3 linked regions of the Homo sapiens genome follow. The protein of the gene in region 1 interacts with the protein of each later gene in a pairwise test. Each region holds a gene or a part of one and is shown in the gene's direction. Other genes may lie near its edges.

Region 1 (10,297 bases):
CTGTCAGGCCCAGGAGAACTCCTGCACCCCCTCCGCGTTGGACGCCCTGGGCTGGGCCTGGAGCTGCCGGCGCCCACGGGGGAAGGGCCTGGCGGGGGTAGGATTGGGGGTGGGCCCGGGGGTGGGCCCCGCGGGCCCTGAGGAATTAGCACTCACCCCTTCCACGTCCTCAGCTCGAGTCGCTCCCAGCTCTTCTCCCCAGCTAAGCTCTCGGAGGAAGCAGGACACTCTTTCACCACTCAAGCCCCTTCTCTCTTTATGCCCCACGTGCCCCCGCCCACGCTGTCAGAAACACCCGCCTAGCGCCCGCTACTTTTGAAGTACATAAGGGATACCTTTTGCTGCCCGAGCATCTTTCCCTTCTTGGATAAAGAAGTTTACTTTGAGCGCTCCCTACGCTAAACTGACAACCAGTTGTTAAACTCCTTTTGCTCTCTAGGTGTTGCCTCTTCCTAATCTGTTTGTGCGTCGAAAGCTTCAGAGTTGGCTAAAATTATGTCTTCATCCGCTATTTGATGTGTGTCTTCTGAACGCTTTTTCTCCTGTCTTGCTGTTGCTTTTTACCTGAAGCTCAATCTAATGAATGAATTCCATCTTCCAACCACTTAATTCTGGTTTCCTTCCTTTCCAATGAAGAGTGATGACTCAGCATTTGCATTCCTTTCTGAATAGTGTGGCACTCCTTTTCTCTGCATCTTTTTTTTTTTTTTTAAGTCTGAATACTTTTTAATTAAATGTTTAAATTGGGCACCCTAATTTCCCGGCCTCTCCAGGTCTAGCACTCCTACCTTGAGTACCAAGGAGTCAGATCGCTGCTTTGTTTCTCTTGCCTCTCCTGGTATTGATAGGATCATAGTCCACTTGGCTCTGCTCTCTGATGGGGAAATTGCTTTTTAGGGAATAGATGAAGGTGGAGGGGCACTCGAGAAGTTTGACTAGCTTCACATCTCTTCACTCCTACCAAAGAAAGGATGCTCAGTAAAGAAGATAGATGTTCAGTATTGATAGAGATTTTTTTGGTGTGGCCTTGTACAGGAATAAATGTGTTCTCTAACGTCTCACTGAAGTATCCGTCCCGTTTTGAGAATCTGAGGCCTACTGAAGCACATCCAATGCTTCAATGAAACGCCTGCTTAATAGAACGTCTTTGTGTTTTGTGTTGTCTTCCATTTCTGCCTTCTCTCCCTAGAAGAAAGAATTGGGACACACTTGAAATTTGTCCTTCAGGCCGGGCGCAGTGGCTCACGCCTGTAATCCCAGCACTTTGGGAGGCCGAGGTGGGCGGATCACGAGGTCAAGAGATCGAGACCTTCCTGGCCAACACGGTGAAACTCCGTCTCTACAAAAAACACAAAAATTAGCTGGGCGTGGTGGCGCGCGCCTGTAGTCCCTGCTACTTGGGAGGCTGAGGCAGGAGAATCACTTGAACCCAGGAGGCAGAGGTTGCAGTGAGCCGAGATTGCACCACTGCACTCCAGACTGGTGACAGAGCGAGAGTTCGTCTAAACAATTAAAAAAAAAATTTTATCCTTCAACATCTGTTGAAGCCAAGACTTGGTGTTGAGTTACAATGTGTACTTTGATATAAGCATCTGGGAAAGCTAGGCTTAAAGACTAGCTAACATGTATTTAACAAAGATAAAAGTTACATTGTATCTAAAAATCTGAAGTATCATCACACACTGAATGATTGATAAATACTCATGGCAGGGGTCTCATTTACTGTATCTGTTCCTTACCAAGAGGAATCTCTGGTTTTGTAGTGCTAAAGAATGTGCTTTTTTGATGTCTTTTATTTATCTTTGCATCTGCCTTGCCTTCATCCCTATCAGAGTTTCTCCAGGGGAATAATAAGCTAACTTCTTTGTCACTTATTTCCTTCCTCTACCTTCTCTAATCTCTTGTTCTTTCTTTGAAACAGTTAAGTTGTCTATGTTTACAGTTCTCTAAAACTGTGACATGTTCATATGAATAAATAAACATCTTAACTCTGTTGTTTTGTATGTCAGTACGTGTTTACTATTCTGTCTTCCTTTTTCCTTCTCCCACCCTTTTCCATAGGGCCTTTTTTTTTTTTTAAGAGAAGGACTACTACATCTTCCTAGGTCTTACCCCCACAGCACTTAGTTCACTGCCTGGAACATAAGAGGTACTCAGAATTTCTACAGTGATTATACTTCTTTCATTAAATTAGTATTAAGTTCTTTTTTAAAAGTCCTGGTTGAACTAAGATTGTAGGCAGACATTACTGTCACATGTGGTGCAGTCTGTTGACTTTTATATATTTTTTAAAACCTTCAAATGTAAAATCTTGAGATAAAAGCAAATGTTTAACAATTGGGATTTTTATTAGAGTTTAATACAAATAATGCATAGTTTTTCTAAGTGTACGTTTTACATATTCTCAAAGGGTTCTATTAGATATAAGTAACATGATGAAAACTGAACATGATTTTAGACGTTGATATCTAGTAGGGTTTTTTGTTTATGGAGATCTTATATTTTACATTGTGAGCTATGGATTAGGTTTTTCAAGTGGCCAGTATGTTTTAAAAGAATGTGTTCTTAACAAAGCTTATCTTAAATTGTTTCCTTAAGATGCCTGTGTGTTACTAGTGAGGTTTTTTTCCTGCAGACACACACAAGCTAAGACATATGGTTCTATCTTCAGAAAACAATATGGTGTTTAGAGCCTAGGTAGGTCTTTAAATATTCATTACCTACAGTATTACTAATTTATTTGATGGTATTTAAAGTGGCAAGAATTGCTTTGATGTTGAGCCTAAATTTCTATTTGTCATATAGTTGCTTTAAAGGTCTGTTTTCTGATGTTCTTCATTCTCATTTGACATTTATTTTGGGGTATTATGCATTGAGTAACTTGTGATCTAAAAAAACAAACAAGATCATGCTGTGTAATACTGGTGTTGGAACTGGACTGTCTGACACCTGCCTTGTGGGACACACATTTCAGGCTTGGGTTGTGTGTATCTTTGTAGTGCAGTGATTTGATCCATGGTATATCTGAATCTACAATATGACACTAAATTGTAATAGTGTTTTATTGTAGCTTATTTTATTTTCTTCATCTATCGGATGCACCAAAATTGCTAGGAATTCGTGTAATACCATGTTACACAATCCCTTCCTTTAAGGCTATTCTTTCTTCCTGGAAATAAGCTAATGATTTAGAGTATAATCTGAACATCTAAGAACAAAGCAGAAGAAAATTCTATAAACTATTACAAAATTGACTGGCTATACCATGGATTTGGCTATACTGTGGCTATAATCAAGCCCCTCATTCAAATTCAACTTAATCATATTCTTTGTTTCTTTAAAGTAAGAGAGAGAGAGTGAGTGTGTGTGTGTGTGTGTGTGTGTGAGAATATCTCATATATATAGTTGGTCAATTTAGTTGTACCTCCTGCAGCTATCTTCCATCATGCCTCCTTCCTAAAATGAAATACTGTACCGACAAATTGAACAATTAATTAGAGATCTATTGAAGGATATTATTGCAAAATCTCTTCTTGTATAGGACTTGTCAAGAACAAAAGCAAAACTATTATGGAAATTTAGCTATAGTTTTTTGTGTGAAAGTGCTGATAATTTCAGCCTTGGTAGGGCTACTCTTTTCAGAGTGAGAGCACATTCAGTGTTGAAAAAGTGTCATTAGTCTTCTGAAAGGCATGATATTCTTAACTTAAAATTCTGCCCAGTCGGACACAGGAAGTAGTTTGGCAATGTGAATTTCTGCCTACTGTGAAACTGCTAAGTTTTTAGCCCCAAATTGGATTTTAACCCTGATATTAGAGATAAAGGTGTCATTTTCAGTTTTTAATGCTTCAGTTCCTACAGTTCCTGTTCTTAGAAGACAAAATAGACTCTAAGGTATGCCTCTTCTGAATTTTTTCGTTGAGTTAAAAATCATTTTGGAATTTCCTAAGTGTTTACTCTTTGAATTGACCTCTCAATACAAAAATTAGAGCCATTTATCTTTTTTCTGTTATTTTGTGTATGTTCTTTAGGTAGCAATTATATATTTAAAGACTTGGATCTTTAGCTTGACTATTTCATAACCAGAGCAGAAAGAAAGTGAAGTGTAGAAGCTATAATTTGGAACGAATAAAGATGTCATTTCAATGAACTACCAAGAGATGATCTTACTAGGTCAGGCATTGAACTTTGTCTTAAATATTTTTGTTAGTATTTACTTTGGGACAGATTATTTTATGATACTGTAAAAGTACTTAAAATAGAATAGTACAGTATTTTAAAAGCTATACAATACGTCTCTCAAGTGTTATGATGCACGAAGGCAAATGTAAATGAAGAGGCAATCTGAAATTTGGGTACAAGAACTCAGTAAAAGAAAAGGCAGTCTGAAATTTGGGTAAAGTTTAGGTGAAATTATATAGTGAATCATGGCCTTTTAATCCTGGTAAATTAAGATATTGTATGTGTTGTTATGGAAGGCCTTTCATGTTAGTTTTTGAAATTTAGTTTGCTGCTTAACATTTAACTTTTAGTGGAGATAATTTGAAAAATAGGAAACCTTAATACTGGATTTTTAAATAAATATTTCATGACATTCTAAACTTAGATATTAACGTTTTCATCTTTGCTTTCAGTGCTAGAAATGTAAATTAATATATCTAAATATGCCTCTAGAAATTCTTCAAGATCTGTAACTGGCGGGAAATAGGTTGACTTAGAATAAAGATTTTTTTTTTTTTTTCAGATGGAGTTTCGCTCTTGTTGCCCAGGCTGGAGTGCCATGGCGCGATCTCAGCCCACTGCAACCTCCACCTCCCGGGTTCAAGTGATTCTCCTGCCTCAGCCTCCCCCAAGTAGCTGGGATTACAGGTGCCCGCCACCATGCCTGGCTAATTTTTTGTGTTTTTAGTAGAGACGGGGTTTCACCATGTTGGCCAGGCTGGTCTTGAACTCCTGACCTCAAGTGATCCACCTGCCTCGGCTTCCCAGAGTGTTAGGATTACAGGTGTGAGCCACCACACCTGGTGGAATAAAGATCTTATTAAGCAGTGACGGCTTTTTTTGTGACTATTAGATATAGAAGGTAACTAATTCCAATACAGTTTTTCCTGAAGAAATTGATGTTTAAACAGTAATGGAAATTTAAAACTATTTAAATCATTTAAAATGTGTTATATTAAAATGATAATTCTATTTTAATTTTGTTATTAGCTAGCTTCAATATGTGAAAACCAGTTTTATCCATCCTTCTTTTCTCTTAGAAGTGAGCTAACTAGCCCTTTAGGCAAGGAGCATAATGTTTAGAAGCTCAAGATCACTTGTTCGTTTCTTTCTTTCTTTCTTTCTTTCTTTCTTTCTTTCTTTCTTTCTTTCTTTCTTTCTTTCTCTCTTTCTCTCTGTCTCTCTCTCTTTCTCTCTTTCTTTTTTATTTATTTTTTTGAGATGGAGTCTCACTCTGTCGCCCAGGTTGGAGTGCAATGGTGCAATCTCGGCTCACTGCAACCTCTGCCTCCCAGGTTCAAGCGATTCTCCTGCCTCGGCCTCCCGAGTAGCTGGGATTATAGGTGCGCGCCACCATGCCCGGCTAATTTTTGTATTTTTTGTGGAGACAGGGTTTCACCATGTTGGTCAGGCTGGTCTCAAACTCCTGACCTCATGATCCGCCTGCCATAGCCTCCCAAAGTGCTGGGATTACAGGCGTGAGCCACCATGCCTGGTCACTTGTTCATTTTTCTTACAGATAGGTCTACTCTGTACAAAAAGAAATCATTTCAGAGATACAGGCTCACAAACCCCTATGAGTTAAGAAGGGGCAAGCAGCCTATCGCTGGCTCATAACCCAATAACCTTTTAGTCCTGCTGGAAAAAGTATGTCACTACATTGGCCTGCTGATGGATCAGCTCCTTAATTACGTGGAAAAGGTGGCATAGTGGACGTAAAACAGTTTGTCACTTGTTTAGTCCTCTAGTTAGGTAATATTGGATGTGTGTTTCAATTTTAGAGCAGGTACACTAAGATTATTAGTACTCATTGCAATAAAATTCTTAACTGGAAAATCGCTACTAATTCTTAATTGGATCTTTTAAGTTTTTTACTTAACCTAAGCTTTCTCAGTCTATTTTTCCCTTTGAGTATTCCATCTTAAAGCATGTTGTGTATTTAATGTGGCAGCTATGTTGCAAGTCTTATTTTGGTCTTAATACTCAGTTTCCAGATGTAATATATTACAAGTAGAAAAAGAAATCTACTTTCCAGAATGAACTTTGTTAAATTTTACAGATATTGTTTGGTTTATGAGGTTGTTCATAACAGATGCAAATTTGAGGAATTATGTGTAGAATACCAGAAAGACTTTAGTGTTTGGCAATTTATTTAGATAAATTAAGATAAATCCATAGTACAAGACATAAACCAAGGTGGTCCTCTCTGTGTGATGAAGTAGCATTTTTTTCTTTTCTTTTTTAAACTTTCCTGTATTTAAAATCTTTTACACAAAACACATTCAATTGTAATTAGGAAAAAAAACCCAAATTTTTAAGTGTCCATAGTCAAAAGTATGCCTGGATTTGTCTTAGTTTTTCTCTGAATTTCTTAAGAAATCTTTGTATTAGCTTTTTTATCTACATTAAGATATATTTTGTTGGCTGGGCATGGTGGCTCACTCCTGTAATCCCAGCACTTTGGGAGACTCAGGCAGGTGGATCACTTGAGGTTAGGAGTTTGAGACCAGCCAGGCCAACATGGTGAAACCCCGTCTCTACTAAAAATACAAAAATTAGCCGGGCGTGGTGGTGCACGCCTGTAGTCCCAGCTACCTGGGAGGCTGAGGCAGGAGAATCGCTTGAACCTGGGAGGCGGAGGTTGCAGTGAGCTGAGATCATGCCACTGCACTCCAGCCTGGGTGACAGAGTGAGACTCCATCTCAAAAAAATACATATATATTTTGTTGATTCTGATGCATTTTAGACTAGGAAATTTTATATTTTACCCTGCTCTCCTAAAATGAAACAGTGAAGACATCATTGCAAACAACCTTACTCAGCCAAAAACAAAACAACAAAAACCCTCCACCCTCTGTATGTTTTACTATAACTTTAATTCTGTTCTTTGTTCATGTAATTGCTTTGGTTGGGAATCTAAGATAAACTCACTTTATGTTTAATATCCTATTACAATCAGATGTTTTAATGAATTAGTATTTGTTGTATGTGTGTGTGTGTTATAAATTATTTTTAATTAGAAATTGTAGTTATCTTGAGACCAGTTTAAAATTTTAACAATTAGAATAAGATGAGAAAATGATATCCAGGGTACAGAATAATAATGCCATTGGGGTATACAAGATCACATTGATTTGTTCTTTAAATGTCTTTCAGAGTGGTATTTTAGTGGCCTAAGAACAATTGTTGCTTTCCTAAATAAGGGTTAATCTTACTTTCATAGGATCAGGTTTAATTGGAGAAATTTTGTTGAAAACAGAGGAAGTTAAAATGAAATAAAAGGTGGCCGGGCGCAGTGGCTCACGCTTGTAATTCCAGCACTTTGGGAGGCCAAGGCGGACAGATCACCTGAGGTCAGGAGTTCAAGACCAGCCTGACCAATACGATGAAACCCTGTCTCTACTAAGAATACAAAAATTAGCCAGGCATGGTGGCATGCGCCTGTAATCCCAGCTACTTGGGAGGCTGAGACAGGAAAATCGTTTGAATCTGGGAGGCGGAAGTTGCAGTGAGCTGAGATCATGCCATTGCACTCCAGCCTGGGCAACAAGAGCAAAACTCCATCTAAAAAAAAAAGAAAGAAAGAAAGAAAGAAAGAAAAGGTGATGAATTAGATGATAACACATTAGAGCCAGAGCTAAAGGAAAAATTGCTGATAACGTATTTTTTTCTTGTGCAGATACGTAGGTAACCTTTCCAGAGATGTGACAGAAGTCCTTATACTTCAGTTGTTCAGTCAGATTGGACCCTGTAAAAGCTGTAAAATGATAACAGAGGTAAGATCTTCCCAGTTCCATGTGCTGACAATTAGCATGATGGGTTGATTAGCATGATTTTAAAATTTCATTGTAAGCCTCAAGTTATTCTGGTGGAGAGATTTGTGTTGTGTTGACTTATTACTTTGATTTGGCTGACAAACTAGGCTTAGAATGGAGTTTTATTTAAGAGGGCAAAGTTTCCGTGCTGTTAAGCTCAAACGGTCATTCTTCATGGTGTGGTTATCTTGAAGTGATTCTGCTTTCAGAACATTATTAGAGCTCATTTCAGAATGGTGAAAAATTGGAAAGTATTTCATACAATTCCAATAAGAATGTTAACGATTTAGACAGCATGTGTTCATGTGCGAGAACACGAAGTTATTATGTGTGTAGTGTGCAGCACCGTTCGTCTCGTGTGTCTGTAGCAAATACTTACCTTTTTATACTTTCCTGCTAAGACTGTAGCAGCACCCAATTAGTCATGTTTTAGGCTTTTCTTCCTTGTGTTTTTGTTCATTGATCAGCTTTCTTTTTTTTTTTTGGACTATTTCCTATGTACTAGATACTGCAGTAAGTGCTAGAGATACACTGGTGAATAAAGATAGTTCCTTGGCCCAGAGAATTTTACAGTTTAGTAGGGAGACAAAGGAGTTAGCAGGCACTTAGGAAGTAGGATAATAAATGCTCTAGAAGCAGACAACTTAAAGTGCTGTGGGAGCAAATGTGTATCCAGTGCAGCCTTAGGTCAGTGAGCGGCTTCTTGGAGGACTCACTGCCTAGGCGGAAACCTTGAAAGGATAGTAGTACATACTGGCTAGAAAGGAATTGAGGGAAGAAGGGATTCCAAATAAAGGGAACTTTGATCCAGGTTGGTAGGGAGAGCAGGAGTGCTTGAGACAGAGAGGGAAAAATAGAACCCGTAGCATGGTTGTAGTTAAAATGGAATTAGTCGTAAGAGATGGCAGGAGTTTATGGAAAGGGCTAGAAACTGTGCTAAAGAGTTTGTTTTATCCTGAAACGGAGAACTGTTAAAAACCTTTAAAGTGCATTGGCCTTTTGATTGTCTTTCCCAAGTAATGACAATCATCATTTTGTTCTGGTGTATTATATTTTTCCTTCCTGCCTTTAATTATTTATTTGTGCTTTCATCGATCAAAAATTTCCTTTGCACTAGGCACTATACAAGGTACTGGAGATATAATGGAGAGACAGCCAAATGAGTTTCCCAAGCAAATAGGGATGTAAGCCATGAAGAGAATAAAACAGAGTTCTGTGATGATTGGAGGGTTGGTGCTATATAGGCTAGGTGATGAGAGATGTCACCTCTTTGAGCTGAGATGAATAACAAGATGGTGCTATCTATGGTAAGAGCTGGAGGCAGAGGAAACAGCAAATACAAGTCTTGAGTTGGTAATGAACTTGTGTTTGTGGAATCAAAGACCGATGGCTAGAGTCTGGTGAGGGATGGAGGGGAGTTAAGGGAAATGAGTCTAACAGCAGGATTCAGAATCACAGGACATTATGGTCCATGACATAGTTTAGGTTTTACTCTGATTGCTGTGGCAGACCAGTGGAGGGGCTTAAGCAGGGGGATGAGGTGCCAAGATTTGCATATTTAAGCTTACTACTCTATGTAGAGAATGACTGTTTTATGGAGAATAGATTGTAGCGGGCAAGAGCAGAAGGAGAAAAACCATCTGGATTTACTTCACTAGTCTAGGTAAGAGATGATGGAGGCTTATTCTCGAAAGTGCTAGCCGAAGTCAAGATAAGGACAGAGGTTGATAGATTTGGAATATATTTTGGAGGTAGAATTGATAGGACTGGGTTGGCTGTGGGACATAGGGAAAGGAAGAAATCAGGAAATACCCTAAGATTCATGTTAATGCAGTTGTATAGTTGGTAATGCTATTTATTTGCTAAAGTGGGGGTGACCTGATGGATGTCACCATGGGGAGTGGTGGGAATCAGAAATTGTGTTTTGGATGTTAGATTTAAGACATGAATTAGACATCAAAGTGGACGTTAGATTAGGCAGTTGGATAAAGTAGTTTGCAACTCTAGAGAGACCGGTGCTGAAGCTTGCAGTGGTATTTGAATCCATGAAGCCATGGGACTAGATGAGTTCACAGAGAGAGAATGATGGTAAAGAAGAGCACAGAGGCCGTGAGGTCTGAGCCCTGGACAAGCTCAACATTTAGAGTTTGAGTAAGGGAAGAAAGATCCTACAGTGAGGAAACAGGAAAACCAGAGTGTGGTAGGAGACAGAAGAGAATGTTTAAAGGAGGATGGTGGTCAACTGTAGTGAATTCTGCTTG
Region 2 (10,984 bases), on another chromosome or scaffold:
GTGGGAGGGGGCTTCAGCAGGACCCCAGCCCCCAGTGGCCTGTTAGTGACACTGATAATATTGGCTGGCCAGACATTGATCTAAGCACTTTACCTGCATTTACTCATTTAATCTTCACAACACCTCTATGAGGTAGGTTTTATTTCTCTTTTTATTTTACAAATGAGGAAACTGAGCCACAAACAAATTAAACAACCTGCCCAAGGTCACAGAGCTAAAAAGTGGAAGAGGCAGGACTTGAAGCCAAGGAGTCTGGCTCCAGAGCACAGGCTCTGCCAGCTTCACCTAAATGCAGCTAAAACCACATGCTTGTGCTGGATGGAGCACTGCCCTTTAAAAAAAAAAAAAGTCAATTCTTTGGGGAAGATAAGGAGTAAACTCCTAACCCCTCAGTGCAATTAAGTTCATCAAATTTATCTACATTCTTTTATAGCCCATTTAGACCCTCAATCCCCACTCTTGTCACCTTAATAATTTTTACATGAAAACTGATTAGTCAGCCTCACAGACGTGCCACTGTCTCATCTTTTTTGGATGTGATATGAGGAAGGAAAGGAAGGTGGAAGAAAGGGACCCCAGTCTCCACTTGATAGAAGAGAAAGCTGACGCCCAGGAGAGTGATGAGTCAGGTCCCCACTGCTGAGTTCTGGCTCTCCTGGCCACATCACACAGGATGCCCCTGTCTGGGACTCTGGGGTCCCTTCATTCCGCCTCTCACACTGCCTCTACATTTCCTACCTGTCCTCAGCACAAGTGAGGCGAACCCCCAGGGTTAGCATGAAAGCCTGGAACAGGAGCTGACCACGGACTCCCAAAACCATTCCCTGCCAGAGCCAGGGCTCCCCTCACAAGACCGAGGCAGTATGGCCCTGAGGCTCAGCCAGCAAGAAAAAACAGCTCTGAGACCCCTCTTCTGCCAGCCCTGGCACCTGTCTGAGACCTGGAGACAGCTCAGTCCTTCTAGGGAGCCCCTGGGTTTCCCAAACACACAGCGTTCTCCCTCCAGTGGGTTTCCTTCATGCCCAGACCTGCTGTGGGCTCACAACAGGACAGGAGGTCCTTCAATTGTCTACTTGAGTAGCAGGAGGCTGCCAATATTAGCTAAAAGGCAGTAGGGATTGTTTTTCTCTTCCTTTCTTGCCCCAATTATTGTTCTTTATATCACTGAACTTTCCTGAAGTATTCCAGGTCAGAGACACACTGGGTTTGTGGAGAAGACCATACTGCTGAGGCTGCCTGCAAAGCCCCATCTTGCCTACCAAACTGATAACCACATGGGAGCCTCCTCCTTCTGTGTGTCATGCAAGAACTCAGAGCCCACTCCTCACTCCAGGCCTTGCAACTCCAAACACCACTTCAACCTGAAGGCCACCTCTCTCCCCTCTTCCTGAGCTGAAACACCCCTTCCTACAGGGCCAGCAGGGCCTGCTCCTCCAGAAGGCCTTCCCTGAGTGCCACTGCCCACACAAGCTCCACCTTCTCTGGGGGTCCGTAGCCCACACAGCCTGCTCCTTTCACTTTGCCCTTCAGTTGGATCATACCCTTTGTGGCCATTTGGCTCTTTGAGTCCGTTTCTTTGCCCAAACAGCACATGAGCCCTATACAGAGTACAGGGGAGTCTCCGTTCCTCCAGCCTGCCCTCACTGCCCTCTGCAGGTCTGGGCAGAGCAGTCGCTCCATAGAGATGTTTAATTTGAGGTCTGGTCTGTTAGGGAGCCCAGTGTATATCTCAGCTCTGTTTTCAGCATGGTCTCAACATAACCTTGGAGTAATCCCTGCTTTTCTCCCTTCCAGTTTTAAATCCCCAGCATCACCCAGCGTACCACCAATCTGGCCCCCTCTGCATCCTGCCTTCTTCACTGCCTCTTTCCTTAAGGCTACTACCCCCATCACAGATCATCACAGGCAACTTGGATTGTTTTCTATTTTCTCCTATGTGGAACTCCTCAGGCCTGGAAGACATTTAACCATCTGTTGCCATTTGCTGTTCTGGGGCTTTTCACTGGGTATGACTTTGGTCTAACTAGACGGTGAGATCTTTGCAGCCTTGTCCTTTCTTGGCTGCTTCCAGAGGGAGGTCAGAAAGACTGGATGAATGCAAGAATGACTGAGTGGTGATGCTTCCAAGTAAAGCAGTGCAGACCCAGGATGCTGAACTGCTGCGGGTCTTCTAAATTACCTGTTCAAAAGTGTCCGCCTGGGGCCCTGCAGCTCCCCTTCCTTAGAGCCCATATGAATATAGTGTTGACACCACTCCCCAAGTCAGATTAGCCACCGGTATCTACAAACTATATCTTAAGCACCTACTGTGCTACCAGAAGGGGTTGCAGAGGAGGAGGAGAGACCAGATTACTGGGTCCTTGCCCTCCATGAGTTCACAATTGAGGGGGAAAGAGAAGATTTACAGGCAGGAGAGCCAAAGCAGGCCTGAGGTTGTGCGGCCATGGCCAGGGCTGCTAGTTCAGTGGGTGTCAGAGAGAAGAGGGTGACCAGTGACAAGTGGCTCAGCTGGAGGGAAGCTGAGCCCAGTGAGGGCTCCCTCCCCTCCTTGAGGAACGAGAGAAGCAAAGGGAAGCGAAGGAACAGGAGGTATTGGCAAGGCCTGAGTAGCTAGCCCACCTGAACCTAATCCCCCACAGGACTTTCTAACACCCCCAAAGATGAATCAGCAACAACATATAAACACCAAGCCCAGAGAGAAAATGAGAAGCAATTGTTCCCAGCCCCACTTCCATTTGCTAGCCTTCTCCCTCTCTCTCAGTGGGTGAAATAATTGTGGCCATGAAGTGGCACTTGGAGGGAAAGTTAAATCTGCTTAAATGTCACAGTGAGTAATACTTTGCCCATCTTTCTCTAATTACATTTCTCTTTGATGATCTAAGGTTAAAAAAAATTTTAACTCAAGTCTTCCTAGAATATCAAGGGTGAGGATACCAAAGAGCCAACCTAATCATGTTTCATACTATTTTCTCAAGGGTCCTGCTCTTTTATTGCATTAGTCTGAGACACCTGTCTGTGTTATTTTATCCCCAACACTCTGCTATGGAGGAGAGGTAGGAGCCTAAGAGATCCAGATCTGCACCTTTAAGAGACTGATGCCTAAACAGAAGCTGCTTCTGCTGCTGTTTACACTGGGTAGCTCAGTTAGACAGGACTTAGTGTCCTGGGGCAGGAGCTGGGAGGGAGGACATTTCGCCATATATCTGTCAGAAAGATGAGAGGTAAGGGTTGTGCCACCTGCTAAGGTGAGATAACCCAAATCCAAAATAAGCCATCATCAGGTGGGAGAAGGGGGAGGGTGGGGATCTCTAAGGAAGGAGCAGCTCTCCACAGCTTTGAGTCCACGGATGAAGAGACACCAGGAGGGGCCGTGGTGCACAGGGCAGGGGAGCAGTCCTGGAGGGAACTGGCACTGCACAGAATGGAGGAGTCTTCATGGCATCTGAAATAGCCAGTGCCCCCTTTCATTAACAAGCCCACTCCCTGGCTCACTCCTGCCCAACGATTGCTATTATTTATGTATTGACTATTATTAATAATAACATGAGTAATTAACCCCCTGTGAATAATTTACTTGGACCTAGGGGTGCCTTGGGTGGTGGCAGGAAGAGGAGGGTGAACTTCAGTGACTCTCCCCTGAGCAGTTCCCTTCTTTTCCAGCTGCCCTTAGCTGGCCCCTTTCCCTTTCCGATGTCCGGGCTTTGCTTTCAGGGGTTGAGAGGCAAGGAGAGAAAAACAGACCTCGAGCAGGAATTTACTCTCCTAAACTCCCCTGTGATAGCAGAAAATACATGCCACTCAGCTGTAGGATCCTGGGTGCCATGCACCAGCACCACAGGATGATGTTGGAAGAGATATCTTGGACAGAGTTAATAGCCACTGCTGATGTGTCCTAGGGGACCAGAAGGAGGAGGTCTCAACCTGGTATGGACACACACATATATGCAGTGTGGATACACGCAGGGTCCGTGCAGAGACCCACGCTGCATCCACACAAGCAGGCACACACGGCCAAACCACACACACAAACTCTCCAAGTGCTTAGCAGGGACTTGCCCCCCTTATCAGGGCACTTCAAAGGCACACCAAATACACAACCACCACATGGCAAAGGCTCTATATGTGAGTTTCTGTTCGAGTCATCTACTTGGTCGATTCTTAGACCAGCATACAACACCGGATAACGTAAACCCGGTAAACCAAGTGACGAATTAACCATACTTACACCCGATTCCGGCAAGCAAAGGCAGGAGAAGCTAAAATGAAAGGATGAAGTTCCACAGTTCTAAAAATCATACTTGCTCTTTGGTTTGGGCCCGGGATCCTCAGAGAGAGGCGTCCTGAGCGGACTCGGGGCCTGGGGCTGCGAACCTCGGGCCTCCGGGCCTCCTCCGGCGCTGGAGAGCTCCGTATTGTGCTTGTACCAAATGGGGTTGGCCTGGGTTTGCAGGCAGCTGGGGTCTCATTTCTTTAATTAAAATTGCAGACATATCCTCTAGTAACGTAATGTAATCCGAGGGCAAGAAAAGAGAAACCCTGAAACCCGAAAGTGGCTAGCCGAGGGCCGGCGGGGGTTAGGCCAGCCGCTCAGCCCCGCCGCCCCAGCTCCCCAGCCCCGCAGCCCGCGGGGGAGCGGGCGCGTTATTTCAATTTGCCAGGCTTCTGAAGCGAAGAGGCTGCCCTGAAAAAGCAAACATGAGAGAGGACGGGGTGCAGGTAAATATCATTAACGTGAAAATCTGCTACCCCAGCCAAGTTCACCACCAGTATTCACCCCTACAGGCGGGGCCGCTCGGACCCTGCTCCCGGCTCCGCGCCTGCCACTCCCTTTCCCGCGCAGCCGAGATGCCAGCCCCAGTGGGCCTGGCGGGGAGTCCGGCGGGGTCCGGACCGGGCGGCTCGACCCCCGGTCCCCACGGCAGGAACGACTCAGCCTCGCACCTCGGGAGCTGTAGGTGCCGAAAACGAAACCCGCGGGGGCAGCGCACGCCGCGCGAGTCTCGGTCCGGCGGCAACCCAGATAGCGATTCAGGGGCTTTATTCTTTTGATGGTGATTAAAAAAATATATTCTATTTGAACCCGTAAAGCAGACGAGGGCAAATCAAGCCATCCCCCGCGCTGGCTCACCGGCCACCGCGCCCAGCGCCTTCCTCCCCCTCCGGCGGGCGAGCGGGCAGGGGCGCCCGACTCCTACCTTCCTCCCGCCAGCCACCGGGGGACCAGCCGCGCTCTCCGGGGCGGGGGAGGCCGCCCGGGACGGGGACCCCCACCTTCCGCCTTCGGAAGCGGGTTGGGGCGGGGGTCGGACCCCGAGTCTCTACTCCCCGTCCCTCTGCCCCCCGGCGCGGCCCGACAGCTCCCAGCCCCATCCTGGCAGGTGGCTTGGGTGGCGGTAGATGCCGGGCGGGAGGAAGATGTGGGGCTGCTCTGGCAGGTTGGGGGTGCGAGGAGGAAAAAAAAACAGAGAAAGACACACACAGAGAGACAGGGAGAGAGCGCGCGCGAGAGAGCTCTTGTCTATAGATTTATCCACATAATATATATTTATGTAGCTTTTTTTCTCTCGACACTGATGAATGCGCGCTCGGATCCCCGGGCGGACTCCCTCCAAGCCGGCTCGCTTTTCTAGTCTAAATAAATAAATAAAGCCAGATGGAAGAAAAAAGCGCCCATTCCACCTCCGCCGCCGCCCCGCCCGCCATCCCTGCCTTTGCTTCGCCCGCCTGGCGCCCTAATAGAGCATAGCTTGGTGGATAAAGCCCCCCTACATACCCACACGAAAATAAAAATCACTATTTTTAAAATACAAAAAGTTGCACCTGCTGCTATTACAAAAAGAACCCCCAAAAGGCAAAGAGAGGAGGCCGGCTGCCCGGCTCCTCACGGACACCCGCTCCCCGCGGCCGCCGGGCCCGGAATCTCAGCGCCTCCCGAAGAGCCATGCGCCTGGCGCTATTTATAGCCGGGGGCCGTCTCGGACTGTACCATCGCCACGGCGCGGGGCCGCCGACGGGGGAGGCGCGGTGGCCGCCGCCCCACGCCGCCCTGCCCCCGGCCGCCGCCCGCCGTGGCGCGGGCCCCCACAGCGCGCCCATTCCCGGCCCCCCGCGCCCTCCTCCGCGCGCGCACACTCGCCACCCCCACCCCTGGTCTGGCTGGGAACTTGAACCGGTCCAGCCTGTTTAAACGGAAAGGACAGAGATCCTGTCTGTTCAATGTAAAAAAAAAAAAAAAAAAAAAAAAAAGAAAAAAAGAAAAAAAAAATCAGATCAGACCGAGAGAGAGAGGAGAGAGGGAGAGAGAGAGGGAGAGAGAGAGGGAGAGAGAGAGGAGAGGGAGGGAGGGAGAGAGAGAGGGGGGAGAGCAGAGAGAGAGCGCGAGCGCGAGCGAGCGAGAGAAGAGGAGAAAGAGAGAGAGCAGAGAGCGAGCGGAGAGCGAGGTGTAGAGAAACCGAGGGGGAGAGAACCCGAGTGTGTGTATGCGTGTGCGTGTGTGAGCGCGAGCGAGCGAGAGAGAGGAGCGAGAGAGTGTGAGCGAGAAAGAATAAAAGGAAAGAAGATTTTCTCTATGTATATAAAGATGGCCACGTTAGCAAACGGACAGGCTGACAACGCAAGCCTCAGTACCAACGGGCTCGGCAGCAGCCCGGGCAGTGCCGGGCACATGAACGGATTAAGCCACAGCCCGGGGAACCCGTCGACCATTCCCATGAAGGACCACGATGCCATCAAGCTGTTCATTGGGCAGATCCCCCGCAACCTGGATGAGAAGGACCTCAAGCCCCTCTTCGAGGAGTTTGGCAAAATCTACGAGCTTACGGTTCTGAAGGACAGGTTCACAGGCATGCACAAAGGTGAGTACACCTTTCCCTCCCAACTTTGCCGGGGAGCAGGAGCGGGCTGGCGGGCCGACCGGCCGGCCGGCGACTGACGAGCGGCGGACTAAGCGAGAGGAAGCCTCGGGCGGGCGCGGTGGAGGGAGGCGCTCGGGCAGCGGAGACCAGAGCTGGGGTGCGTGGGGAGCTGTTCGCTGGGGCAAGACTGGGTTTTGGGCGAGGTGCTGATAGGAACGATGCCATGGAGAGAGCAGCGGGCGCCGATGAAGAGAAAGAGAGAGGGGATCGAGGAGACGGGGCTTGGATTTTTGGGTACAGCGACCTGAAAGATGGGGATGGGGAAGGCTGCACCGGTCGAGCCCAGGACGCTGAGCGGACGGACTCGCGGGCTCCTGGCCGGCCGAGGACCGAGGGTGCTGTCCATCGCCGTGGTGCTGAAAATACTAAAGGAGGTGGTCTCCTCATCCTTTGCTCCGGGCTAGAGTAGCAGGAGCGCAGCCGTCTAAAAGGGAGAGAGGTGACAAATTCAAAGAGAAATTTTTATTTAAATGTAACAGTAAACTCTCCCTGTCGAGCTGTGTGCCTCAATAATCTGATTGTGGTGTGAATGGTGGTGTGTGTTGGGGGTGGGGGGGTTGGATGTTTGAAGGAACCAGTGATAAAACCTAAGGCAAGAATTAGCAAGGAACCAGCCATCCCCTGGGTGGAGTGGGGGGTCTGGCAAGCCTGGATAGTCCCCTTCCCAGGAAAGCGGGGCTTTGGGAAAAAAATATGTGTGTGCGAGATTTGCATTTTGAAAGGTGTACCCTAATTTATCCCAAACTCACCATGCAGAGAGCTTTATAGTACATTATTTCTCCCTTGAAGCGATCATTGCCAGTGAGTGCTTGGGGGAGGGGGAGACAGAATAATCAAAGAATTAAAACACAGCAACTTTTTAGGAAAGTGGTCATGGGAATTGTCCGCAGCCTGCCTGTTTTCTCCTTGTTTTATTATCTTTAAAGCAGAGCCCCAAACGTGTTCAGTTGTAGAATGTGTGTGGGTGGCTGGTGGGTGACGAAATTAGCCCAGTGCTCCGCTTCCTAACAGTAATATATAGGATGTGCAGCGGGAATGAATCGGTGCTGGATCTATGTGGGCAAGTTAAATGCTTTCTGAGAGAGATTGATCGCCAGGCAGGGAAGGAGCACGGGGCTAAGGAAGTTGTAGGGGATGTGTATGGATGTTCCGTTTTTAATAAACAGTAGTGTGGAGAGCCGCCGAAGATGCTGTTACAGCTGGTGGTTTTAAAGATGAAAACACACGCACACCCACCCCCACATAGAGAGCAGCCTCATCCTTGGCCACAAATGGGCTATGGACACAGCTGATCCTCCAGCACATTAGGTGCAGAGCGCAGAGCTGTCTGGCTCTCTAAGCAGCAGCGATTTTCACTATCACAACCACCCTCTTTCTCCAGCCCTCCCTTCGTTCGAATACTAAACAGAGCTCCAAACTCTTCATAGTTGGAGTCCCAGAGAGCAGTTTTTATTGGCTTTAGTATCTTCCAGCTTGCCTGCTGAGGAGTAAATCTTAAAGTTAATGGCATGTTGAGTAACACAAAAACACAGCAGAATGGAAATATACTGGGTTTGTTGGGGTGGGGTGAGGGTGGGGGCTGTAATGGAGAGAGAAGGCAACCTTTATCCAATATGGAGAAAATGTCTGTCTGTTCAAAAGAGAGATTGGAAAGGTGGAACGGGGAGGCAGCCTTCAAAATAATATTCGAAGAAAAAAAGAAAACACTTTCTTTTTCCCCCCCTCCCTCTCAAGTCAACCATATCTTTGTAGTTTTTCCCCTTCCAATCAAGCTTCCTAGAAGCTAATCAAGGTTTGTATCAAACCTTTGTTATTCTGAATGTCCTCATTGTAAAAAATAGTAATAATAAAAATTTTGAAAGCATAGGTAGGGAAGTCTTCTGCTCATCTTAATGATCAGTTTTTATGGTGATTTAAGATTTTAAAGTTAAAAAAATCAGAACTCACTAGAGGCAAAAGACAGTTATGAGGAGCTGGGCTTCATATGGCATCTGGATTAAAGCACTTTATTTGCTTCTTCATTTCAAATGAAGATAAACTTTAACAATATTCCTTGGTTTCTTTTCTACAATCCCTGATATCATCACTTTGTTGCTGATGTAATTTGGACTCTCTCATATAATAGCAAAGAAGTAGAATTTTCATCATTTGCATTAGGGAGGTAGAGAAGGTTATGATTATATATATAATATATACGTAATACATATATTACATATATTTTATATATAGATATAGATATCGATATATAAAATCTGGCCAGAATTCCTAGGACAAACAAAACTTCATTTTCTAAATAATTTCTCCCCTAAACTGTCTCAGTCAGTGGCAAGCAGGCCCACTAGCTCCGGCATACTGGGTTCCTCGTTGTCGCAGCTCACCCTTCAGAGCCTGAGCATATATTTTTCCCAGTGAAACTTCCTACCTCTCCATCCTTCTGATTTTTATAATCGAGGTTGGACCACAATGTCCCTAACAGTGCTTGCAAGCTCTCAGAGAGCTGAATAAATGAGACCGTTTCCGAGGTCTGGTTTATTCAGTCCTAGAAGAGTTTAAACTCCTTCTTCGGTGATGGAGCCTGATTTATTAGCTAATCCTGATAAAATAAGCCTCCGGCCACCTTAAAAAATTACTCGCTTGCCATTGGTGATTAATTACTGTTAAGTCAGAAAGCATGATGAGGCTTGAGGAATGAGTGTTGCATTTGGTTTCTAGATTTCCCCATCTCTAAATTGACAACATAAGGTTAGGGATAGAATCATGCCTTTGTTAAGCCTGGTTTCAGGGCATATTTGTGCCTCTTGCTCTCCCCTTCCTTAATTTCTAACTTCTAATGAATCATACAGGATCAAATTGAGAGACACAGGACACTGGCCTCCAGTTTGGATGTCATGTTTATGTTAGTGGCAAAAAAAAAAAAAGGAAAAGGAAAAGAAGTAAAAACTAAATTAAACACAGGAGGTTTCAGGTGGGTCTCCATTTGTTGGCCACCTGCCATTTCAGATATCTAAAGAAGGAAGGAGTTCTAAGGGTTAATGGAATACCTGCCATGCGTAGAGTGCACCTTAAAAGGCAATTACTCCAGTCAAATTGGGAGTCTGTGGAGGAGGGAGTGGGTGGGTGTTGTGGAGCAAACCCAGCCATATCAGAGAAAGGCTGTTGGGCTGGGGAGGCAGCAAAGAGCAGTTGTGGACTGGGGTGATTACTGTAAAGGTAAATTTACCCCCTGGAGGCCAGAAAGCAATTGGGGAGAGGGGTATCTGGGTGCTAGGCAGAGAGAGAAAGGAAGAAAAAAGCCCAGAATTAAAATTCAAAGAAACAACACCCAAGGAAGAAAACCGAGTTTAGTGCAAACTCTCCTGACCAACTCAGAGTCTTCTTTTCTCCCCTATTAGAGCACTTTGGGAAAGATTGTTTTTCCAGGCTCCAAAGAGAAAGACATTGTACTATTGATTAAAGAGAAAAGAGATGAATTCCTCGGGTAGCAGCAGAAATGAGCTGAGGGCCAATTTTACCCCTTTTTGTAGAATTTTTCTACCCTGGAGAAGGGAACAGGTCACCCAGTAGTCCAATTCTTCCTTTCTCTCATTTTTAATTTGTTTCTCTTTTCTTCTTTTCATTTCCTGTAGAACAAAAAGAGGCAGTGTCTGAAGACACATATATGTACACATACCCATGCTTGTTAACACTCACATAAACAGTGGATCACACATGAAGAAATCAGCAATCCATTCATAACTTTGGTCCTGTCTAGCTGGATGGGAGGCAGCAAAGACTGAGTTACTGGGAGATATAAAGACTAGTGCTCTCTGGATAGCCATATTATAATGCATTATCTTTGAAGTCATTTAAGTCCAATTTAAGTGGTATTTAGTATAATATTTATGAATTAACGTAATCTAAACATAAGGCTGTCCCCAAAGGTTTAAACAGCCTTTACTACTGATGTGTGCTTGTTCCCAGAGCCTACGATGCATTTTAATCTAAACGGCCAAGTCCACATCATAGTCCCTCTTGTTATCCAGTCAGAACAGATCTGTGCCTGGGTAACCACTCTGCTTTGAGATTTTCTC
Region 3 (10,880 bases), on another chromosome or scaffold:
TTTGCATTCTGTCTCCCCCAGCACCTCCAGATAGCACTTGCTAGAGGCAGGTCAGTTTTGGCCTCTGCACGAACCTGACAGAGGCTTCCCAAGTGGCTCAGAGTAAAATCCCAGTGACAGCCTTGGAGGCGAGGGCGTTTGGTCACTCTCTGAATCCACCTGCCACCACTTGCCCCTGGCGACAGCAGTCCCCTCACTCTGCATCAGGGACTTTGCATTCCTTGCTCCTTCAGCCTGAAATGCCCCCGCCACCAGGCATCCTTGTGGCCCACTCCTTCACCACATTGAGGAGAAGAGGAGTCCCCTTTCTGAAAGGTCAGGCCCTGCCCCCACCACATGCCCCTGCTCTGTTTTCCCCTGAGCATGTGCCCCACTGGAACACACTGGGTCACCACTTGCCGCCAACGCCTGCAGGACACCTCTCTGAACACCCGTGACACCTCATGGCACCTCTGCTGTCAGAGCTTCACTAGGACTCACCAGACTAAGCAGACAGTTATACCCACGGCCAACACACAGCAAGGACACAGCGGGGTCTGGAGGGGTCAGGGCACAGACTCGCTGAGCTCTCCCTCCCATGAAGGCTGCACAGAGCATACCCTGCGCCCTGCATCTCCCCAGGGAAGTAGAAGCTCAGAGCTGGGGCAGAGGTTGGGGCTGGTCACGTAGGCACACTCTCTGCCCACCACAACTAACAAGATTCCAGATTCCCAATAGGAAAGCAGGTGTTCACTAATCACATTGTCTGTAAAAACAGTCAGCAGGCCGGCACAGCGGGGCAGGATCCTGAAAGTTAAGTTCCCAGATGCCAGCCCAGGGCCAGCCCCTGTCATCAGCTGTCCCAGTGAGGAGGTCTGCTGTGAAGGCTCACAAGCTTCGCTGTTGGATAGTCTTCACTAAAATATGAGCCCCATAGAGGCTTTGGTTTTGTTTGTTCGTTGCTGTGTCTCCCTGGTGCAGAATGAGTGCTCCATAAACATTTGTTGAATGAATTAAGGACTGTCAAGTATAAGCCCACCAGCCAGTGGCAGAAGCAGGGCTAGCACCTGGAGATGAACGTTCTCCCCTCTCTGGGTGGGGCTGCCCAAGCCATCAGGACCTCACCAGGGCCCCTTATGACCAATGGCCCTGCCTCAGAAAATGGTGGAATTTTCTTTTTTACAAACCCACCTTCCCTAATCAGGGACAAAAGCTATGATGTTGGCTTCATTCACATAAAGATCTAATCGAATGAGCTTCCCTGGTGTACCCCCAGTAGGTCCTGGTGCAGGCGCGGGTTGCTCTGTTTCTTCTCTGTGGTTTCGTGGAAACAATCCCACTCTCTAGATCCTCTCAAATTAGCTCTGACAGGTTGTGACTTTCTGAAAGCAAAATATCAAGATTTAGCCACAGGACATGGTGAGCTGTGACCTCTGGCTTCCTAGCTCCACCTTTGTATATAGCGCTGCCCCTCCTTAGGCCTGGACCTCCTTAAGAAAGGCAAGCAGCGAACAACTGACAGGATACGGTCTTTGCCCAAGTGCTATCTCTAACTGTCAGCAATCATTAATTCCACAAGCGAGGAACCACACCTCAGAAACCAAGGTCACCTTCAGTATGGAGGGGCCAGCCCCAGCCAGGGAGCAGGAAGAGAGGTGGCAAGGCAACAGACCCCAAATTTCAAGTGTGACATCTCAAGTTCCCCAGCCACAGTGCACACAAACATGAGCAGAAACAATGGCCTTGGCCAGACATGGTCACTCATGCCTGTAATCCCGGCACTCTGGGAGGCCAAGGCAGGAGGATCACTTGAGGCCAGGAGTTCAAGACCAGCGTGGGCAACACAGCATGACCCCGTCTCTACAAATATATATATGTATATAACAACAGACTTACCAGCTTTTCTGCACAAGGATTCTGTTCGCCTCAGCTTTCCCAGTGCCTCTCTAGAGGGCTTCTCTATCTCCTCTGTCTCTATAGGATTCCCACAAGCCCCTCTTCACCCCCACACTTCTCTAGAAGCGCATAGGGAGGTTCCTCACTCTACCTCCTCCTTCCAGACACACCACCTGCCCTTCCTCAGCACAGCGACACAAACCGCACCCCACTCCCCGCATCAGCCCTGACCTTTTCCCATGTTGGGAAACACACCACATCTCAGTTCAGGACTCTGCTCCTACCCCCACTCACACTCCCACTCCCACCCCCGCCCCTGCCCAGTGTGTCCTCTTCCTCCTAAGTCCCTCGTGTATCGCAAAACCCCACACAGGCTCTACCTTGTGGATCCTCGGGGCAGCAGCCCCCCAGGGCACAGGGCTTGGAATTCACTCACTGGCCAAGGACCATGCTCTCTGCAATGAGGCAGGTAAAGAAGGTGTGCTGGGTTGCATAGCATCCCCCTAAAAATTCATGTCCTCCCTGGAACCTCAGAATATGGTCTTATTTGGAAATAGGGTCGTTGCAGATGAATTAGTTAGGATGATGTCATACTGGAGTAGGGTAGGCCCTCAATACAATCACTGGTGTTCTTGAAAATAGAGGTACTGAGACAAGGAGGACGCCATGTGAGGACAGAGATTGGAGTGACATGGCCACAAGCCAAGGCACTGAGGGACACCAAGGATTGCTGGCAACACAGAAGCTGGAAGAGGAGAGGAAGGACCCTCTTCTTGAGCCTCCAAAGGGAGCATGGCCCTGCCTACACCTTGATTTCACACTTTAGGCCTCCAGAACTGTGAGACAACCCATTTCTGTTACTTTAAGCCCCTGTGTGTGGTCCTCTGTGACAGCAGCCATGGAGGCTACTGCAGAGGGGATAGAGTCCCAGGACTTGGGGGCTTGCAGTCTTGAGGGGAATCTCCTTCCAAGCCCTTGCAGGACAGGCCCTTGGGCATCAATGTGTTGCACTTACTCTGTGCCACCTTGTAATATTAATCCTTCTATGTACATGTTATGGGCCCCGTTACATAAAAAATGCAATTCTTTCTGGTGTGCTTCAGCTCCCTGCCTACACGCAGTGTTCCTCCCTGCCCTCACTGCATCCTCCAGGTGCGGGACCTGTGGTGGTTCCTGTCCTCAGCCACATCTACCCTGGTGTGAGGACCTGTAGTCACTCAGTCTGTCTCCCAGGCCTTTCTTTTATTTATTTATGGACGTCCATTGCAGAACTGAATTAATTCTACCTCAGTGCATGGATGTCGTCATCACTGGCCCATACAAGTCCTCTCTCTTGTCTTTCTCACGTGTGTATGTATGTATTCCCACTCCCACCCCCGCCCTCACATCCATTCTAATGTGTATCCACTCTTGAAAGCGGGTGGCTTGGTGTGTACGTGTTTCCTGTTGTGTAATGGCATCGTGCTATCACTCATCCTGCGTCTTCCATGATCCTGAGATCCCTTCTCAGGAGTGGCTGTGTGGACATCCATGCCTTTGCACCCGCCAACTGCACAACACCCCATGGTGTGCAGTGACCACTCTCCTGGGGGTGGCACCCCGATGGCCTCCAGCTCCCCAGCCTCACAGCCACTTGTGTCTGCATCCCACCTCTAGGCCTGGGTGAGAACCTCTTTGACATATATTCCAAGAGACAGAGTTCCTGAGTCTGGAGAGCATGCAATTCTCTCATTTGCCCACACCCTGCAAAGTGCCCTCCAGAATGGCTGTGCCATCAATAACCCCTTCCCACAACCACACATAAGGTCCCCGTTTCCCCACATCTCTGTCAACACTTGGCATCATCCAGCTTTCCCATGAAAAATTATATCTCGTTGTTGAATGCTTTGCATTTTTCTAGTAACCACTACATTTGAGCATCTTTCCATGTGCTCTTTAGCCCTTTGGGGTGCCTCTTCTGCAAGTTACCCTTGGGATTCTTTACCAGGTTTCCATGGGGACTGCTGCCTCTTTCTGACCGATTTGCAAGAGCTCCTTGTGTATTCTAGATATTAGTCCTGTCACTTTTTGAAAACAGCTTTATTGAGACACACCTTACAATTCACCCATTTAAAGTGTATAATTCAATGCATTTTAGTACATTCACAGGTACATGCAGCCATCACCTTCAATTTTAGAACTTTTTAATCACCTCAAAAAGAAACCCCATAAGCATTAGCTCTCACCCCATCCCTCCATCGCACCCCAGCCCTAAGCAACCACTAATGTGCTTCTCATCTGCTTGAGAGATTTACCTACCCCACACGTTTCATATAAATGGAATAATGTGGTCTTTTGTGACTGGCTTCTTTCATTTGCCGTAGTGGTTTTAAGGTTCATCCACATTGTGTCATGTAACAGTGATTCCTTCCTTTTTATGACTGAATGATGTTCCATTGAGTGGATAGACCACATTTTGTTGACTCATTTATCAATGCAGAGACATATGAGTCGTCTCCACTGTTTGGCTATTGTGAATAACACTGCAGTAAACACTCTGGTACAGGTTTCCCCATGGACATAGGCTTTCCTTTCTCTTGAGCATATACCCAGGAGTGGGATTGCTGGGTTATATGATAACAACGTTAAGTCATTTGAGGAACAGCCAGACAGTTTTCCGAAGTGGCTGCGTCATCTCACCATGAACTGCCTGTGAGGCTTCCAGTTTCTCTGCCTCCTGGCCCCACCTGTTATTACCTTGCTTTTGAATTCTAGCCATCCTAGTGGATATAAAGTGGTATCTCCTGGTGGTTTTGATTTGCATCCCCTGATGACTAATGACATTGAACAGCTTTCCATGTGCATATTGGCCATTTGTGTATCTTCGTGAGGGGAATATCTATTCAGATCTTTGGCTCATTTTTAATTGGATTATTTGCCTCTTATTATGGAATTGGAAGAGTTCTTCTTACATTCTAGATATAATTTTCTTATCAGATATATAATCTGTGAATATTTTCTCCCATTCTATGCTTTGTCTTTTCATTTTCCTGTGGGTGTCCTTTGAAGCATAAAAGTCTTTTAATACTGATGATGTCAATTTATCTATTTTTTTTTCTTTGGTTATTTGTGCTTTGAGGTCACATCCAAGAATTAGATGTAAAGTCAAGCAGATTTACTCCTATGTTTTCTTTTTAAGAGTTTTACAGTTTTAGCTCTTACATGTATGTCTTTGGTCCCTTTCGAGTCCGTTTCCGTGTGTGAAAGGGTCTAACTCCATCATGTGCATGTGGCCCCTTTCCCTTTAAATCTTTGCAAGTCTCTTTTCTCGATCCATCCTCACTCCATTAACTTTGTCGCAGTTTCCTTTGTGGAATGGAAACAGATTGTAGTCCTCAAAATCAGGTTGTTCCTGAAACTCTCTTCTAATCCAAATCCCCCCAATTCTCTGCGGAGTTGGTGAGCCCATAACTGAGAATACATAACTCACAGTCCTCTTGAACACTGAGGGTGAAAGACGTTAGCATTCATTGTCTTTGTATCAATCATCATTTTAACATGGAAGGCAAATCCCCTTCCTCAGAAACACCAAAGACCTTCTGGAATTGCAAGCAAGCTTCAAGTTGACTAAGTGTGTTCACCTTCCTTCATCTAGCTGCCAGTGCACACTGAAATGGCTTGCATTGCGGGCAGCAGGAAGGATGATGATGAGAAATACAAAACCCCTATAACCACAAAGCGGTGTGCAATCCCTGAGCAACCAAACCTTGGTAATGGGGGATGATGACCCCTTGGCACTCCTGAGCCACGAACTTTTCCTGACTCTATTCTTTCCTTTCCAACTAGGAGTTACCCCGGTCACCACGTTCGCCCTTCTCAACCTGACTAAGTGGGCGTTAGCACTGTCCGCCCACTGCATGGGCACTACCTGCCCCAGTGTCCTCTCCCCTCTCCGCTCTGTGCCATAGCCTTAGCTACCCTGGCCAGCTTTCTCCCAGCCAAGTCCTTCCTCCTTTCTGAATCTGGTCAGGGTCTCAAAGATCGTTAAAAAGCCGCCAAAGTTTGCAACTCGTCTTGAGTGGCTGCTCCTCCCAAACGGTTCTGCCTCTGGTGTCTTGTTCTAGGAGCGGTTGAATTCTCTGTTTTGCTGTGGGTGCCAGCCTCTATCAGCCCCTGCCCTGGTCCATCTGTCAGCTTCAGGTAAGACTACCGGCTAGGAAATGGCCCCTTGTCCTTATCTCTGCCTCTAAAATATGCCACCTAAATTAACAGATCGTGGCATTGCATGGCTCGTCACAGAGAAGCCAAGGCAAATTCTTGTGGAAGGCGGCACTTGTCTGGAAACAGACTCAGGACAAGTGTGCTGCACAGCCAGCTTCCTCAAACCCACTCTCGCCACTGTAGCTGCCCACAGAGGCACCTCCCAAGCCATAGGCCCCTCCTAGGCCAGCTCAGGCCTCACCTTGTCCCTCCCTGCAGGGCGGGGTCTGATTGACTTCAAGAAGGAGTCAGAGATCAGCTTAAGGGCAAAGGCTGGAAGCAGAGCGAACTGGGAGCAGAGCACACAGGTGCGTTCTGATGGGTATTCGGGAGAGTCAAGAAGGGGCTGACCTGGAGGACAGAAAAGCAGTGGAAGGAGGGCACAGAGTGAGGGGCAGAAGAAACAGGACACAGAGGGAGGAGGGCCAGGAAGTGAGGGCGGGAGCCCAGCACATCACAGAAGGTGCCCGGGTGCTTGGTGGCAGGCAACAGCCGGCCAGGGTGGAGTGGGGAAAGCTCAGAGAGGAGGGTGAGCAGGGAGAGGGCTTGCTTCCTGTTCCTGCCTGGAGGTCTCACCAGCCACCACCCCCACTGCCACTGCACATGGGGACAGAGGTTTGTCCTGGGGAAAGCAAAGGTCTCTTCCACATCTTTCTCCTTCCTGGAAAAGCAAAAAGAAACGTGGGTATAAGAGGTTGTAAAAAAGGAGACCCAGCCGTGAAAGGACATGGAGGTACCCTAAATGCACACTGCCAAGCAAAAGAAGCCAATCTGAAAAGGCTGCAGACTGTAAGATTCCAAATACAGGACGTTCTGGAAAAGGCAAAACTATGGAGACAATAAAAAGAGCAGTGATTGCTAGGGTTTCGGAGGAAGAGGTGGAGCACAGAAGATTTTGGGGGAGGTGGAACTATTCTGTGTGATATTCTAATGGTGGATCCATGTCATTGTCCGTTTGTCCAACCCATAGAATATGCAGCAGCAAGAGTGAGTCCTGATGTAAACTGTGGGCTCTGGGTGAGAGTGATGTGCAGGTTCATCAGCCACAAATGTATGGCTCTGGTGTGGATATTGATAGTGGGGAGGCTGCGTGTGTAGGGGCTGTGAGTATACAGAAACTCTCAGTACCTTTCGCTCAATTTTGCTATGAACCTAAAATTCCTCTTTAAAAGACTCCTATTTAAAAGACTTTAATAGACTTTATAAAGTTTGTTAAAAGACTTTTAATAGACTTTTTAAAGACTTTTAACAGACTTTATAAAGTCTATTAAGAAATCTATTAAAGTCTATTTTTAAAAGTCTATTAAAAAAAAAGTCTACTATAATCCCAGCACTTTGGGAGGCCAACGCAGGAGGATCACTTGAGCCCAGGAGTTCAAGACCAGCCTGGGCAACATAGTGAGATCCTGACTATATATATATATATATATATATATATATATATATATTTATTTATTTATTTATTTAAGTCTAATAAGAAGTCTATTTGGGGCCAGGCCTGGTGGCTCATGCCTGTAATCCCAGCACTTTGGGAGGCTGAGGCAGGTGGACCACTTGAGGTCAGGAATTCAAGACCAGCCTGACCAACACGGTGAAACACCATCTCTACTAAAAACAAAAAATTAGCCGGGCATGGTGGTGCACACCTGTAATCCCAACTATTCCAGAGGCTGAGGCAGGAGAATTGCTTGAACCTGGGAGGCAGAGGTAGCAGTGAGCCAAGATCGCATCACTGCACTCCAGCCTGGGCTACAGAGCAAGACTGTCTCAGGAAAAAGAAAAAATAGTCTATTTAAAGAAGAAAAAAAAGAGGCCTGGCCAATATTTAATAGGAGAACACAAGAACTCACCTCATATCCTTCCTGCTGGCTCTGGGTTCCGCCTGCAGCCCCTGCCTCACCTGCTCCCTCCAGGTAAGCAGGGCCTCCGAGAGCCCAAGATCATGTGGGTTCCAGGGTCTTCTGCCAGCACCAGAGGGCAAGACAAGGCAACTAGAGGGACATCCCCATGAGAGGCCATGACCATGGAGCAAAACGAGGGCAAGGGGAGAGCCCTCGGGGAGAGGGGCATGGGAAAGGGAGAGAAGGACATCTCAGATCAGCCTTTACCGTGGCCTCCAGGGCTAGAGAGCCCTCGGGTGATGGAACAGGCCCAGCCAACACCTTTCATTTGTCTATGAATCAAGAACTGCCCATCGTGTACAAATTAAATACAAAGTGCTAAGGGGACTAGTGGAGAAGTATGTTAGTTGGGGCCAAAAACAGCATTCCTCGGCAGTGCGGGGTTTCAGCTGACCTCAAAAGGTGGCAAAGGATGTGACACTGGCCCAGAGTCGGGTGGGAAGGGACAATGTGCAGCTGAGCTTCTCTGGAGGAAAAAAGCCACGGGAAAACAGGGCCTCTAGTTAACACATGGGTTGTGTTCCCAACGCTTGTGCTTCGGAAATGTGATGTGTAAATGCATTTTCCAAAAACAAAAGCAAGAAATGAAAAGCGCTCATGATGGTCAGGTTTCCTCAGTGGGTCACTCCACGATACACCCAAAGTGGAGCTGCTGCACCTCAGTTACACCTCACACCCTGTGCCGCCGACTTTCCAGGTGAAATCCTCGGGGCCTCCCTTGCAGGCAGCCTGGGCCCCCTGGGAAGAGGCTGGGCCAGGCAGAGGTCTGAGACAGGAGTGGATTAACCCTCTCTGCTACCTGTCTGTCTGCACAGGAGAACGAGTTTTCTCCAGGTTTACCCCCAGGGCTTCTGATTTAGGGAGCAAAAGGCAACTACCTATGAAAATATGAAAACAAGGATCTCTCAGAGTCCAACCCACTCATGCATCCACCTTATAAATCAAGTGTCTGTGCCTCAGGCACTGCTTGCAGGAAGTGAAAAGCACAGCTGAGACAGGGAGGAATCCTGAAGCGGGGCTCCCAGCTCAACCCAGAGCCTTGAGGAAGGGGGTGCAAGGTGGCAAAGGCAGTGCTTCTGTAGGGAAATTTCACGGTGACGGCAGCCTTCCAGGGAGGCCCACATCACCTAGGAGGACAAGTTAGGGTCTGGAGAAACTAAGGCTGGGAGACAGCTCCAGCCAGCATCTGTAGCAACAGCGCAACAGGCAAGAGTAACAGTCTCCCAGAGACTCCGCACACAGCACATGGGAAGACAGAGCTGTGGCCACCACGTCTCCCAGCCCTGCAGGAGGCTCACAGCTACAAGCACAGGATTTTACAGCTGCTTGGGGAATGGGGTTATGAGGTGAAGACCCTGACCCACCCTCCCTGAGAAAGGAAAAGGCATCTTCCTAAGATGAAACCCTCCCTGAGGTCCCCTCCTAGTAGCCTTGGGTGGACAAGAGAGGTGAATGGGGCACAAAGAAGGCTAGGCAGGACTGGGCACCTCTACCTCACCCCCAAAGCCATCAGTCTGCAGCCTAGTCACACCTGAATCACTCTACATTGCGTAAAACTTTAAATGGGCTGGTGTCGATAGCCTGTATTTAACAAGAAGAGCAGCTAACATTTCTCATGTATTTCCCATATGGCAGACATTGTTACAAACACTTTATATTTACTGTTTAATTGATTTCTCTCCACAACCCTAGGAGCTAAGCACTGTTGTCATTATTTTCATTTTAAAACTAAGAACATGAAGGCCCAGAGAGTTTAAGCAGCGTGCCCAAGGCCACACAGCAAGTCCTAGTGGCATGAGTCACTGGGACTTGACTCAGACAGCCTGACTCTAGAGCCTACCTTTGAATTTCTACACTAAATTTCAAAATCTGTCTACCTAAAAGGTATTTCGTTGTGTCAGAAATGTAGTTTTGCTGTTAATACAGGTGTCTTCTTCTCCAGGACACAAGAAGCACCTGGGGGCATGTGCAGGGGCCCAGCCTGGCCTCTGTGACTCACGGCACCCCTGGCTGAGATAATACACAAAAACAAGGGTGTTCCCCTGAGTAAGGAAGGCTGCAGGACTGAAGGACATTTACAGAGGAGTGAGGAGAGGGCAGAAATAAATGGATGGATGCACAGGCAGCGGCCCGACGGCGCTGGGGACTATGCATGGGGCCCCAGCTGCCCCAGGACAGCCTCCAGCTTGGGGCAGGGCAAGGGGAGGAAGCTCAGTCCATGGGAAAATTCCATGGCCCTAACCTGAGGGAAGCCCATCTCTGCCCATAAGACAACTAAGTTCATCTCCTCTATTGCATTCCAGAGCCGTGGAGCGAGAGATGCCGGCCCTGGGCTGGGCCGTGGCTGCCATCCTGATGCTGCAGACGGCCATGGCGGAGCCCTCCCCGGGGACTCTGCCCAGGAAGGCAGGGGTGTTTTCAGACCTAAGCAACCAAGAGCTGAAGGCAGTGCACAGCTTCCTCTGGTCCAAGAAGGAGCTGAGGCTGCAGCCCTCCAGTACCACCACCATGGCCAAGAACACCGTGTTTCTCATCGAGATGCTGCTGCCCAAGAAGTACCATGTGCTGAGGTTTCTGGATAAAGGTGAAAGGCATCCTGTGCGGGAAGCCCGTGCCGTCATCTTCTTTGGTGACCAGGAGCATCCCAATGTCACCGAGTTTGCTGTGGGGCCCCTGCCAGGGCCCTGCTACATGCGAGCACTGTCCCCCAGGCCTGGGTACCAGTCCTCCTGGGCATCGAGGCCCATCTCCACAGCAGAGTATGCCCTCCTCTACCACACCCTGCAGGAAGCCACCAAGCCCCTGCATCAGTTCTTCCTCAATACCACAGGCTTCTCATTCCAAGACTGCCATGACAGATGCCTG

Evidence for each region.
Region 2: the proteins of TIAL1 (region 1) and CELF4 interact in binary tests that used the Homo sapiens proteins (3 or more experiments, as listed by UniProt).
Region 3: the proteins of TIAL1 (region 1) and AOC1 interact in binary tests that used the Homo sapiens proteins (3 or more experiments, as listed by UniProt).

What each region holds. Positions count from the first base shown.
Region 1 is NC_000010.11:119,585,852-119,596,148, reverse strand, and holds part of TIAL1 (nucleolysin TIAR), read left to right. Parts: intron 1-156; exon of another isoform or gene 157-585; intron 586-2,059; exon of another isoform or gene 2,060-2,149; intron 2,150-2,629; exon of another isoform or gene 2,630-2,697; intron 2,698-4,031; exon of another isoform or gene 4,032-4,173; intron 4,174-7,900; coding exon 7,901-7,997; intron 7,998-10,297. UniProt on the Homo sapiens protein: RNA-binding protein involved in alternative pre-RNA splicing and in cytoplasmic stress granules formation. Shows a preference for uridine-rich RNAs.
Region 2 is NC_000018.10:37,561,226-37,572,209, reverse strand, and holds the start of CELF4 (CUGBP Elav-like family member 4), read left to right. Parts: upstream 1-6,411; 5' UTR 6,412-6,568; coding exon 6,569-6,854; intron 6,855-10,984. UniProt on the Homo sapiens protein: RNA-binding protein implicated in the regulation of pre-mRNA alternative splicing. Mediates exon inclusion and/or exclusion in pre-mRNA that are subject to tissue-specific and developmentally regulated alternative splicing.
Region 3 is NC_000007.14:150,846,137-150,857,016, forward strand, and holds the start of AOC1 (diamine oxidase [copper-containing] isoform 2 precursor), read left to right. Parts: upstream 1-6,380; 5' UTR 6,381-6,422; intron 6,423-7,967; exon of another isoform or gene 7,968-8,027; intron 8,028-10,318; 5' UTR 10,319-10,334; coding exon 10,335-10,880. UniProt on the Homo sapiens protein: Catalyzes the oxidative deamination of primary amines to the corresponding aldehydes with the concomitant production of hydrogen peroxide and ammonia.